Linked DNA regions of Homo sapiens. The protein of the gene in region 3 interacts with the protein of the main gene of each other region in a biochemical or structural test. Each region holds a gene or a part of one and is shown on either strand. Other genes may lie near its edges.

The links.
Region 1: the proteins of MID1 (region 3) and RIC8A form a complex in vitro, tested with the Homo sapiens proteins (one study listed by BioGRID).
Region 2: the proteins of MID1 (region 3) and HMG20B form a complex in vitro, tested with the Homo sapiens proteins (one study listed by BioGRID).

The regions. Positions count from the first base shown.
Region 1 is NC_000011.10:213,094-215,700, reverse strand, and holds the end of RIC8A (chaperone Ric-8A), read right to left. Parts: intron 2,403-2,607; coding exon 2,283-2,402; intron 1,472-2,282; coding exon 1,351-1,471; 3' UTR 588-1,350; downstream 1-587.
Region 2 is NC_000019.10:3,575,893-3,579,646, reverse strand, and holds the end of HMG20B (SWI/SNF-related matrix-associated actin-dependent regulator of chromatin subfamily E member 1-related), read right to left. Parts: intron 3,387-3,754; coding exon 3,340-3,386; intron 3,095-3,339; coding exon 3,022-3,094; intron 2,756-3,021; coding exon 2,540-2,755; intron 1,667-2,539; coding exon 1,534-1,666; intron 1,139-1,533; coding exon 1,126-1,138; 3' UTR 564-1,125; downstream 1-563. UniProt on the Homo sapiens protein: Required for correct progression through G2 phase of the cell cycle and entry into mitosis. Required for RCOR1/CoREST mediated repression of neuronal specific gene promoters.
Region 3 is NC_000023.11:10,610,572-10,614,225, forward strand, and holds part of MID1 (E3 ubiquitin-protein ligase Midline-1), read right to left. Parts: intron 1-3,654. UniProt on the Homo sapiens protein: Has E3 ubiquitin ligase activity towards IGBP1, promoting its monoubiquitination, which results in deprotection of the catalytic subunit of protein phosphatase PP2A, and its subsequent degradation by polyubiquitination.

The DNA.
Region 1 (2,607 bases), on a different chromosome or scaffold from region 3:
CCCTGTCAGGCACCAGCTGCTCCCTCCTGGGCTCTCACCCACCTGCACATCCTCCTTCCTAGCATCACATTACCTGCGTGTTTCCCCAGACAAAAGCACTTCCCATTCTTGAACCTTGCCTACCCTGGGCTGAGCTGACGGCAATAGATTTAATGACAGTGACTCCCAGGAAGGGGGTCCTGTGACTTTGCGCCTTAATAAGAACAAAAGGTGGAATTGGTGACCTAGGAAAACTGTTGAATTCTAAAAAGAATGAAGTTAGTTTCTAACCCTAGTTAATGTTCCTTTTTTATTTTTTGAGTCTTGCCCTGTCACTCAGGGTGGAGTGCGGTGTTATGATCTCAGCTCACTGCAACTTCCGCCTCCCGGGTTTAAGCGATTCTCCTGGGTAGCTGGGATTACAGGTGTGTCCCACCACACCTAGCACATGGGCATATTTGTAATAGAGACAAGGTTTTGCTATGTTGGCCAGGCTGGTCTCGAACTCCTGGCTTCAAGTGATCCACCCACCTCGGCCTCCCAAAGTGCTGGGATTACAGGCATGAGCCACTGTGCCTGGCCCCTTTATTTGATAATTTACACATACATTTTTGTCCAAAACTCTTCTTTATTTCAAGATGATGTTTCTGTGGCTATGTGTGGTATGTGGTATAAATCTCAATCTATGGTCACACGAGGGGCATTTTCCTTGTTGTAAGTGTAGTCTAAACCAGTAGGAAGGAGGTTTAATTGCCAAAACCAGCGAGAACTCGGGCACTGTGGATACTACAGTGGGCAGCTGAACGAGGACCAAGGAGAATGTCTAAGAGGCCTCCAGCCCTGCGCTCAGTGAAGACAGGACAGGAACAACAGAGCATACATACCTTGGAAGGGTGTGTTCTGATATACTCGTATGGAAAGTTCTGACAGGTTTTCTCCCTGGGAAGTGCAGCACATACCCCAACACACTGGCTCTGCCAGTGTGCCAATCCCAGATGGTGCTTGCTTTGTGTGCACCCACACCCAAACCCCTGCCCTCCCATATGCTCTTCTGTGTGCCCAGGTAGGCCCTGCCCTCAGGCAGCAGCTTCTGAACACATTCCTCTTGGCGCAGACAAAAGAAAGTACTTCGTCTGTGGAATTCGAGGCTGAGCCTGAGTTCTAGCACAAGAAGACCGTTGCAGTCCAGAGATGAGAAACTGGACCAGAGGCAAATCATGAACAGAACGGGAGTCAAGAGAAGGGGTTTCTAAGATGGAGAAGTGGGGGCGGGTGTGGATCCAGTGGGATGTGGCTTCCCCAGGTTGCAACCCCAAGGAAGTCTCTGGAAGCAGCACCAGTCCTGATGGGGGAGCAGAAGAGCTGCCATCCTCAGTCAGGGTCCGAGTCAGGGTCCGAGGAGAGCTGCTGCTCCATAGTCTCGCACATGGCATCCTGCAGGGACGTAAGATGACCCCGGGGACTCATCCCCATTGGCTGGATGACTCTGTTCCTGTTGGGGAAAGGTGCAGTGGGGCTGGGGAAGGGGCCCAGTTGGCCAGGCAGGGGTCCTACTCACCCGTGGCTGCTACCTTCCTCTCTACCAAGTAGGCTGCTCCCATTTACTGGGGAAGCCTGGTTGGACCTTCTGTTAACTGGGCCCAAACCCTAACTGCTGCCTCCTGGCTTTAAGCAGTTTCCTATTTTAAACATCTAAATTGGCCTTAAGCAGGCTCTTAATTTGGACACTGGGCCATCTCCAATAAATCTGGCGACATTAGTCTCTTTTTTTTTTTTGAGACGAAGTCTCACTCTGTTGCCAGGCTGGAGTGCGGTGGCACAATGTCAGCTCACTGCAAGCTCTGCCTCCTGGGTTCAAGTGATTCCCCTGCCTCAACCTCCCGAGCAGCTGGGACTACAGGCGCCCACCACCACGCCCAGCTAACTTTTTTTTTGTATTTTAGCAGAGATGGGGTTTCACCATGTTGGCCAGGATGGTCTCGATCTCCTGACCTTGTGATCTACCTGCCTCAGTCTCCCAAAGTGCTGGGATTATAGGCGTGAGCTACCACGCCCGGCCTTAGACAGTCTCTTAATTTCTCTGGGCCTCAGTTATCATCTGTAAAAGGGGCACAATACTGATCTCAATATACCCATCCCCTGGGGGATTTCCTCCAGGGCAAGTGATTTCAAACGTGAGCAATGCAACCTAATACCAGGATCCTAAGCTCTCCTCTGATCCTACCTCCTGGGGCTCACAAGACAGGATGTGGGTCAGCTCTCCCTTCTCCCAGCTGCAGGCCCCTCCTCCTCATGCCACACACCTGGAGAGCTTGTCAAACATGGTCACCAGCTTCATGGCCTCGTGCTCCTTCTGCTCCTCTGTCATGCCCTCCATAGGGTTAGGCGGCTTCTCCTCCACCCTCCCGGTCACAGGGTTTATGCTGTTTCCCAGTGGGTGGAATGTGGGGAATGCATTAGTGACTCTCCAGGACAGGAGGCAAGCCACCTATTTTCCCAGTGGGGTGAGGTGGGCAAGGCAACTGCAGGAAGAGGCCTCCCTCCAGAAGCGGCACAGGTAACCAGCTCCTGCCATCTGCCACCTTCTGGTATCCCAGATAGCACTTAGGAACAGGTGCTTGATTCTGG
Region 2 (3,754 bases), on a different chromosome or scaffold from region 3:
GCGCGGTGGCTCACGCCTGTAATCCCAGGGTTTGGGAGGCTGAAGCAGGAGGATTGCTTGAGCCCAGGAGTTCAAGGCTGCAGTGAGCTATGATCGGGCCACTGCGCTCCAGCCTGGGTGGCAGAGTGAGACCGCGTCTCCAATAAATAAACAAAATGGCTATGATGGTAAGGTTCATGTTGCGTATTTTACACAATAAACAAAACCGTGGCCCACCCAAAGTCACTGTGCTACAAAGTGGACTTGAACCCCCGTGCGGACACAAGTTGAAGGATGAACTGAGCAGCCGTGACTGTCCCCTGTGCTTCAAGTCCCCCACGTGTGCTGAGCCCACAATGCCCAACTTTAGGTAGGGGAGGGATGGAGACACCTGCCCAGCCATTGACTTGCTCTGTGAACCCCGGCAAGTTTGGGCTCCCGTCTCCCTATCTGAGAAACTCTGAGGCTCTGCTAGAGGTAAAGAGAGCAGGCCTGGCGCCCCCAGCAGGGAATGTCATGGGGGGCCCAGGCTGCACCTTCTGAACCCTCCACACCACCCCAAACAAGCTTACACACTCACAAGCTTAAAACACAAATTTTACTTGTTTTTATTTAAAAAGTCCGGATCCAGCAGTGAGAAGGAGCCACCCCCACCAGGGTCCCTCGGCTGGAGGAGAGCAGGATGGGCAAAGCCGGCCCCCACCCATCTGGGGTACAGGCATGCGGGGGACACCCCAGGTAAGTCCCCACAAGGCAGCTTCCTGTGTGGCCTATGGCACAGCCCCCCGTAGTGAGTAATTTGGGGGGTCCTGCCGTGTGCTGGGGGTGGGTTTCGTCTGCCCTGTGTCCTGGGGGTGGCCCGGAGAGCCAGTGTAGCGCGTGGCTGTCCTCCGAGGAGGGGCACCCTCGGCTGTGAGGTTCTTCTGGGTGTATCGCGCAGCGAGTGCTTTTTCCGGGTTCAGGGGGCTGGGGAGATTGAAAGCTAAAGGGATGCTGCAGAAATTTAATTTTAGGGGGGCTGGAGCCCCCAAGGTGCAGGATGGGACCAGGCCCCAAAGGGTGGACCCCCAGCCTCTCGTCCACGGGGTGGGGTGTGGCAGGGCCGCGCCCACAGCTTCTCCTCTGCATCGTGGGCCCGCCCACTCCTCACAGGTGCTCGCTGAAACGAGAGAGGAGGGCCCGGGATGAGGCCCTCATCATCTCTGGCCCCCACCCCGGCCCTGGGGAACCCCAGAGACCATGGCCCATCAGCTGCTCCAACAGATGCCAGGGTTGGGGGACAGGCGTTGAACCTATCTAACCCGGGCGCTGGGATCCACCCTGAGAAGCTTTAGGGAAGTTCTGGTGCCCCCGAGTGGGTCCCGCCGGCCCGGGGTTCTCCATGGCCATCCTAGCACTGGTGCATCAGGGGCGACCGCAGGTAGGCCCCTCCGGGAGGTGATCTCTAGTAAGCTGCGGAGTCCCACCCAGCAGCCCTCGCGGACCTGGGGAACCCCAGGGCGGGCACATCCGGGCCTTGAACCCCGGCCCCGCCCCGCCTCGCCCGGCACACACCTGGCGACCTGGGCCAGGATTTCCTTGATGCGGACGATGAGCTTCTCGTGCTGGGCGGGGTCGCGCTCGATGGCTCCGTGAAGCCGGGCCATGTAGAAGTCCAGAGTGCCCAGCGTGGGCGTTTCGCCCGTGCCTGGGGGACAGGCGGGAAGGTCAGGCGAGGGTGCCGGGGAGTCGCGGGGCGGGGGCTCCAGGGGCAGCGGTAGGGGGTGACTCAGGGCGGGTCGCGCGGGCGCTCAGAGGTCCGGACACCGCCAGCGCAGGAGCGGCGCAGGGTGGGCTAAGGTAAGCCGGGGCAGGAGGATGGCGAGGACGGGGACAGGGTGGGGACGCGGGGCTAGAGCGGCGGGCGTCCAGGGTCCGCTGAGGACAGTCACGGACGGAGGGAACGAGGTCGGGGAGGTGGGGATGACACCGGGGGGCTGGGGTCGCGTGGGACGTGACTGGGGTGGTGGAGGGGGCTCAGGCGTCAGCGGGGCGTGGGGAGGGATGGGTGACGGGGGCGTGGGGAGGTGGGGTGAATGGGAACGTGGCGTGGCGAGCGGGGAGGCTGGGTCAGTGCTCAGGCTGGTCGGGGGCTGGCGAGGGAGAGGGGCCAGCGACGGTGGGGCCGGTAGGGAGCGGTGGGGGCGCGAAGGGTGGGGGCACAAAGGGGCTGCGGGAGGAAGCGAGTAAGCGGGGACGCGTCGGGAGAGGTCGTGGCCGGGAGGCGCGGTCGGTGGGGGCGAGGTCAGGGAGCCGGCCGAGTAACGGGGCGCGGAGCGGAGCTCGGGTGTGGTCTGGGAAGAACCAGACGGAGCTATGGGGTAGGGGTGCGGGGGTCGGGGAGGAGGCGGAGCTGGGGGTGATGAGGGCGGGGCGATAGGCGGGGCCGGGTGACTGGGGAAGAGGGGACGGGGCGATGGGCGGCGCCGGGCGACAGGGGAAGGGGGGAAGGGAGGAGGGGGGGGGAGGCGGGCGGGGCCGGGTGACCGGGGCGGGACTGGGAGATGGGCGTGGCCCGCACCCGGCACCGGCAGTGAGGCGAAGCTGGCGGTGAGCGCCTGGCGCACGGCCTGGAGCTGCTGCTGCAGCGCCAGCGTCCTCCGCTCCTCCAGCGCCAGCTCCTGCTCCAGACGCTCGCGCGCGCTGCTCATGCTCTGCGTGTGCCTCTGCAGTACCGCGTTCTGCTCCTCGAAGGCCACATTCATCTTCCGCAAGCGCCGAAGCTCCGCCTCACGCGCTGCGCCGGGGGGAGCGGGGTCAAAGCCTGCGCCTCCCCTTTCCCCTACCTCCGGGCTTTTGCCCGGGACGTGCCCCTGCCCAGGTTTCCCTCACTGCGCCCTCTGCCTCCTGCTCCACATCAGCCTCTGGAGCGACAGCGTGCGCCTGGACGCTCATAGGGAACCTCCCGATCCGCCTCCTGCAGTCTTGGGGCCCTCCTGGCCCACGCCCCCCTCTACCACCCAGTTTCACGGAGTTCGCATCAGGAGCGCAGTTACCGCTCACCTTTGTTTTGGTCCAAGAACTCTTCAGTGAAGATGGGAACATCGAAGGTGGAGAAGCCATCGCAGTCCCCACCCTAAGACGAAGGGACAAGGTGGCAATTTACTGGTGGTAGGAGGCAGCCACGCTCTCTGGGTGTGCCCCAAGCCTAGGAGGGTCTCCTGGGACACCCCGGTGGGAGTACAATCAACAGCGATCCCACGGTGCAGTGGCACCGCCCCTGCTTGCACACATCTGGGCGAGCACTGGCTCTGACTCAGGGTTCTAGAAGCCTCCAGACCTTTCTCCCCCAGGTGCTTTGAGAGGAAGAAGGTCGCTTACCTTGTGTCCATTCAGGAGAGTGTTCATGAGCCCAGAGCTCGAGTCTTCTGGCGGGGGAGGGGAAGGGCAGGGTCAGCCTCCCAGGCCTCCAGGGACCACGCCCTGCACCCTAGGTCAGCGCTGCTCAGCCGGCTCCAGCTCCCCACTTGAGTGCCCCGCGTCTGGGCATCCCCCATCGCTGTACCGAGTGAGCCCCCTTCACTCCTGTCTGGCTATGTATCTTTCCCCCGCCCAACCCACGGGACTGTGCCCCACGGAGGGAGGCCCTGCCTGGGCTGAGGTCGCACCCCACAGAGCAGGACCCCAACTGCTCGCACCGGCCCCTCCCACCTTTCATTTTTCTTTTTCTTTTTTTTTTTTTTTTGAGACGGAGTCTCGCCCTGTCGCCCTGGCTAGAGTGCAATGGCGCAATCTT
Region 3 (3,654 bases):
GGCCACTATTTGTGTAAGAGGAGGGAAATATATTTACATTTGCCTACAACAAGCAGAAAAATTGCTGTAGAAATTGATATCACAACAGGAGACACATGGTATACTATAATTCACAACTTTGGGCAGCTTGGGAATGACGATGTTTACATACCAATTAGGGACTCAAGAAATCCTATAAAGTTTTTCTTCAGGATCCTAGTATTCAAATTAGCATAAGGATCAGACATGGAATATAATCTCTGAGGTGAATGTTTCAAACAATGTTTGAAGCCCCCTGGGATCACACAATTAGGAGTTGTGCCTATCTCAATTACTTTCATACTGTTTCTTTACATGATCCAATGCTAATCAACAATTTACCTGGTTAAAATTTAGTTGGTTTGGTTATGCTCTGAAGAGGACACTCCCTTCTTATGTTTTCTGCACTCAGGCAGGAGACTTGTAAAGGAGCTAACAACAAAGGGATTTTTAACCTTCAAAGCCTTAATTAGAAAATAAGAGCAAATGGTACATTTTTAAAGAGGAACCAGGAATACATATTCTTGTGGGCTTTTGCCTCATTACATTTGTTAATAAGGAATGCCAAAACATGTGCACCAAAAAGCGTTCAAGGTCTTTTGGTAGTAAATTATACTTGTAAATTTGATGTAAGTTGATCACTTGAAGAACTCACACTCTTTGAAGATTAGAATTCATAAATGTATGAAAGAATTAAATGGTTCTTTCCTCTAGTGATATAAAGTATTAAATGACAGAAAAAAATGTGTTCGAAATCAACTGCGGAAATAATTCATTTTGAAAAGTATTCAATAAAAATGTTAAATGGGAAAAATATGCTAAGCCCGTTTCTGCTGGATGAAGAAGTAAAGCAGAAACATGAAAAGGGCAAATTTAAGGATGATGGGCTGGGAAATGTCCCATCAGCCTCACAGTTTTACTTTTTGTTATTCAACTATGGCAGTTCTAGGCCCAGTAATCTATTCCATCCCCATAAGACAAAGAAAAAAAGACTAATTCTGATCAGCAGAAAACTGGATGGCCTCTAGGAACCTTCAAGAGGGCAGTAGCTCCGGATCAAGGAGAAATGAATGCCTTTAAAGAGGCATCTTAGATTGTTTTGTTAATACATAAAATCCTCTCTCTTTATCATGCAGAAGTCTCATTTCAAAAGGAAAATGCAAGTCAATGAGGATTAGTTTGGCTCCTCAGAGGTCAGAACTAAATATACAAAAACTAATAATATGACACTGAAATAAACAAGAATGTGGAATTGCTCATCCGAAGGGATGATGTAACTAATATTGACATAATTTCCAAGCAGAAAAGCAAAACTAGGTCAAAGCACGATGGCCTAACATAATAAGCATTTTTGTTTCCAGATTTTTACCATGTAGGCTGTGTCTGCAGGCATTAATGTCTTCTGTTATCAATGTTCGGGGCTGTCACAAACAATTCATGTCTTATCACTCTTTGTTAGTTAAACCAAAACAATGTAGTTTATATGTGAACCATTCAATTCTGACAGCTGAAATGTTAGAAAGCGGAGAAATATTCAGAAAGTGTCTCTTCCAGACTGAGAAGCATCAAGCAATAAATATTCATTATCTAATAGTCTATCATGTTTTTATCTACTCAGAAAGTCATACCCCTCTCAATTAATTATTATGACTGTTTTCCCTCTTTTAGTCAGAGCCGTACAAAAAGGGCAGCAACAATCTCATTAGGATTTCACTTTAAACATTGACCACTGAAAAGGAACTCAAGTGAATCACTCACCAAATAGCCAATTTTTCTCTACCGCTTTCCCCATCATATGTTGACTAAAAGAAGTCACGCTTTCTTCTCTCGTCTATTTGTTCCATTTTACCTTCCTGCACTATTTCCTCAAAGCACAGCTGATTAATTCATGGGCTAAATGACTCATCTCATTCCCTAAACTTTCTTTTATATAAATATAATCCTCCTAGTTTTTGCTGTCTGACATTTTCATACTTAACTAAAATCAGAGCAAAGAATATACACATAAAAGAAGCACAAAACCCAAATATAAGATCATTTAACTATTTGGATTTTTTGGACAGTATTTTCCACTAAAGATGATGTAGTCTTTCCTGAGTTGCCTCATTATAAACCAACATTCCATTCAAATTGCCTTGGAATTTATTAGCATATTGAATTATAGCACATGACCTGAAAACATCCAAATTATATCTTAGTAGAAGGCATGTGGTACAGTCACAAAAGAGAATGAGATGGGGAGTCTAGAAGACTTAGCTTCTAGGTGTAGAACCTAAGTCTCCCTCATACCTTGCTCCCAGATGGAGGGTAAAGTGTTTCTTGTGCTAAAACGTCAACCCAGAAATGCTAAACTTTAACCAGTATTCTTAGTCTGGATTCCTAATGTATTTCGTACAGAAGACTTGATCCTATGTAAGTAAATAAATCTCTATTAATAATATTTGGTGGTGCCGTCCATCTATATATTGCTTTATTTGGCCATTCATCTACTTATTATTAACTCAGCAGGGCATTCAATGAATTCCATTTTCCCAGTAACATCCCCCTTCCTCCGAATTGTTTGGGGAAGACCACTTCTAAATACACACAACCAAAGCAACACTCCAAAACTTGACATAGGACAGATACCACAGTCTACCGCATAGACCCTTTGGTAATATATTAGTCCTGTTGTTTCCATAAACTATTAAATGTCCCTGAAATTTCTATTTTGTCATTTTTAACTATAACTTCTGGTCTGTTACACCTACCAGCAATGAAAATGCTTTGTCCGGCACAAATCTTGAACTTCACTATGAAAAATGTGGCCACCATCTACATGGAGAAGGCTTCAGTCTTCTCTCAGACACGCTATCTCAGTTCTGGAGTAACCTTGGGCATGCCACTCACCTGCAAAATTAAACAACTGCACATGGACCTAAGGCCTAAACTATCAGGCTGGGTTCAATGAGAGAAAGCAGCAGATTCTATCTTGGCGATTAGGCTTTGAGCTATTGGAGGGCATGACCCATTTCGTAATCATTTCTGCAGAACAATCAAACAGAGGATAAGCCAAGCTGCTTACCATGTTTTGGGTTGTGTTCTTGCCCAGAACACAACTGAAAGGAATATATATATATATATATATATATATATATATATATAGAGAGAGAGAGAGAGAGAGAGAGAGAGAGAGAGAGACAGACAGACAGACAGACAGACAGAGAGAGACTATGTGTATATAAATGGACTATATATATATAAAACCATATACATATAGTTCAGTAATCATAACCTATGCTAATTTTCTCTACTACTGATCTATTTAGTCCTTGCTGTTTCCCGGACCTTTCTAATGCCCTTTCTTCTTCATATCCCTTCGGATTTTAAGGAGCATTTTCCATTCTCTTTTTTACTAAAATTCACCCAGCATGTGCCTGTAGAACACTTAATGATTCTTATTGTGTGCCAGACACTGGGCTTGGGTCTGGGGATTCAAAGGTAATTAATATGTGACTCTTGCTCTGGAGTAACTCAGTTCCAAGATAAGCAGACAAACGAGTAGAAATATATACACCAACTCAAATACTCGTGTGGATAAGAGGATGCTACAGCTATTTTCTTTCCATTTATTCTAATCCAAGTAGACAGTGCTCA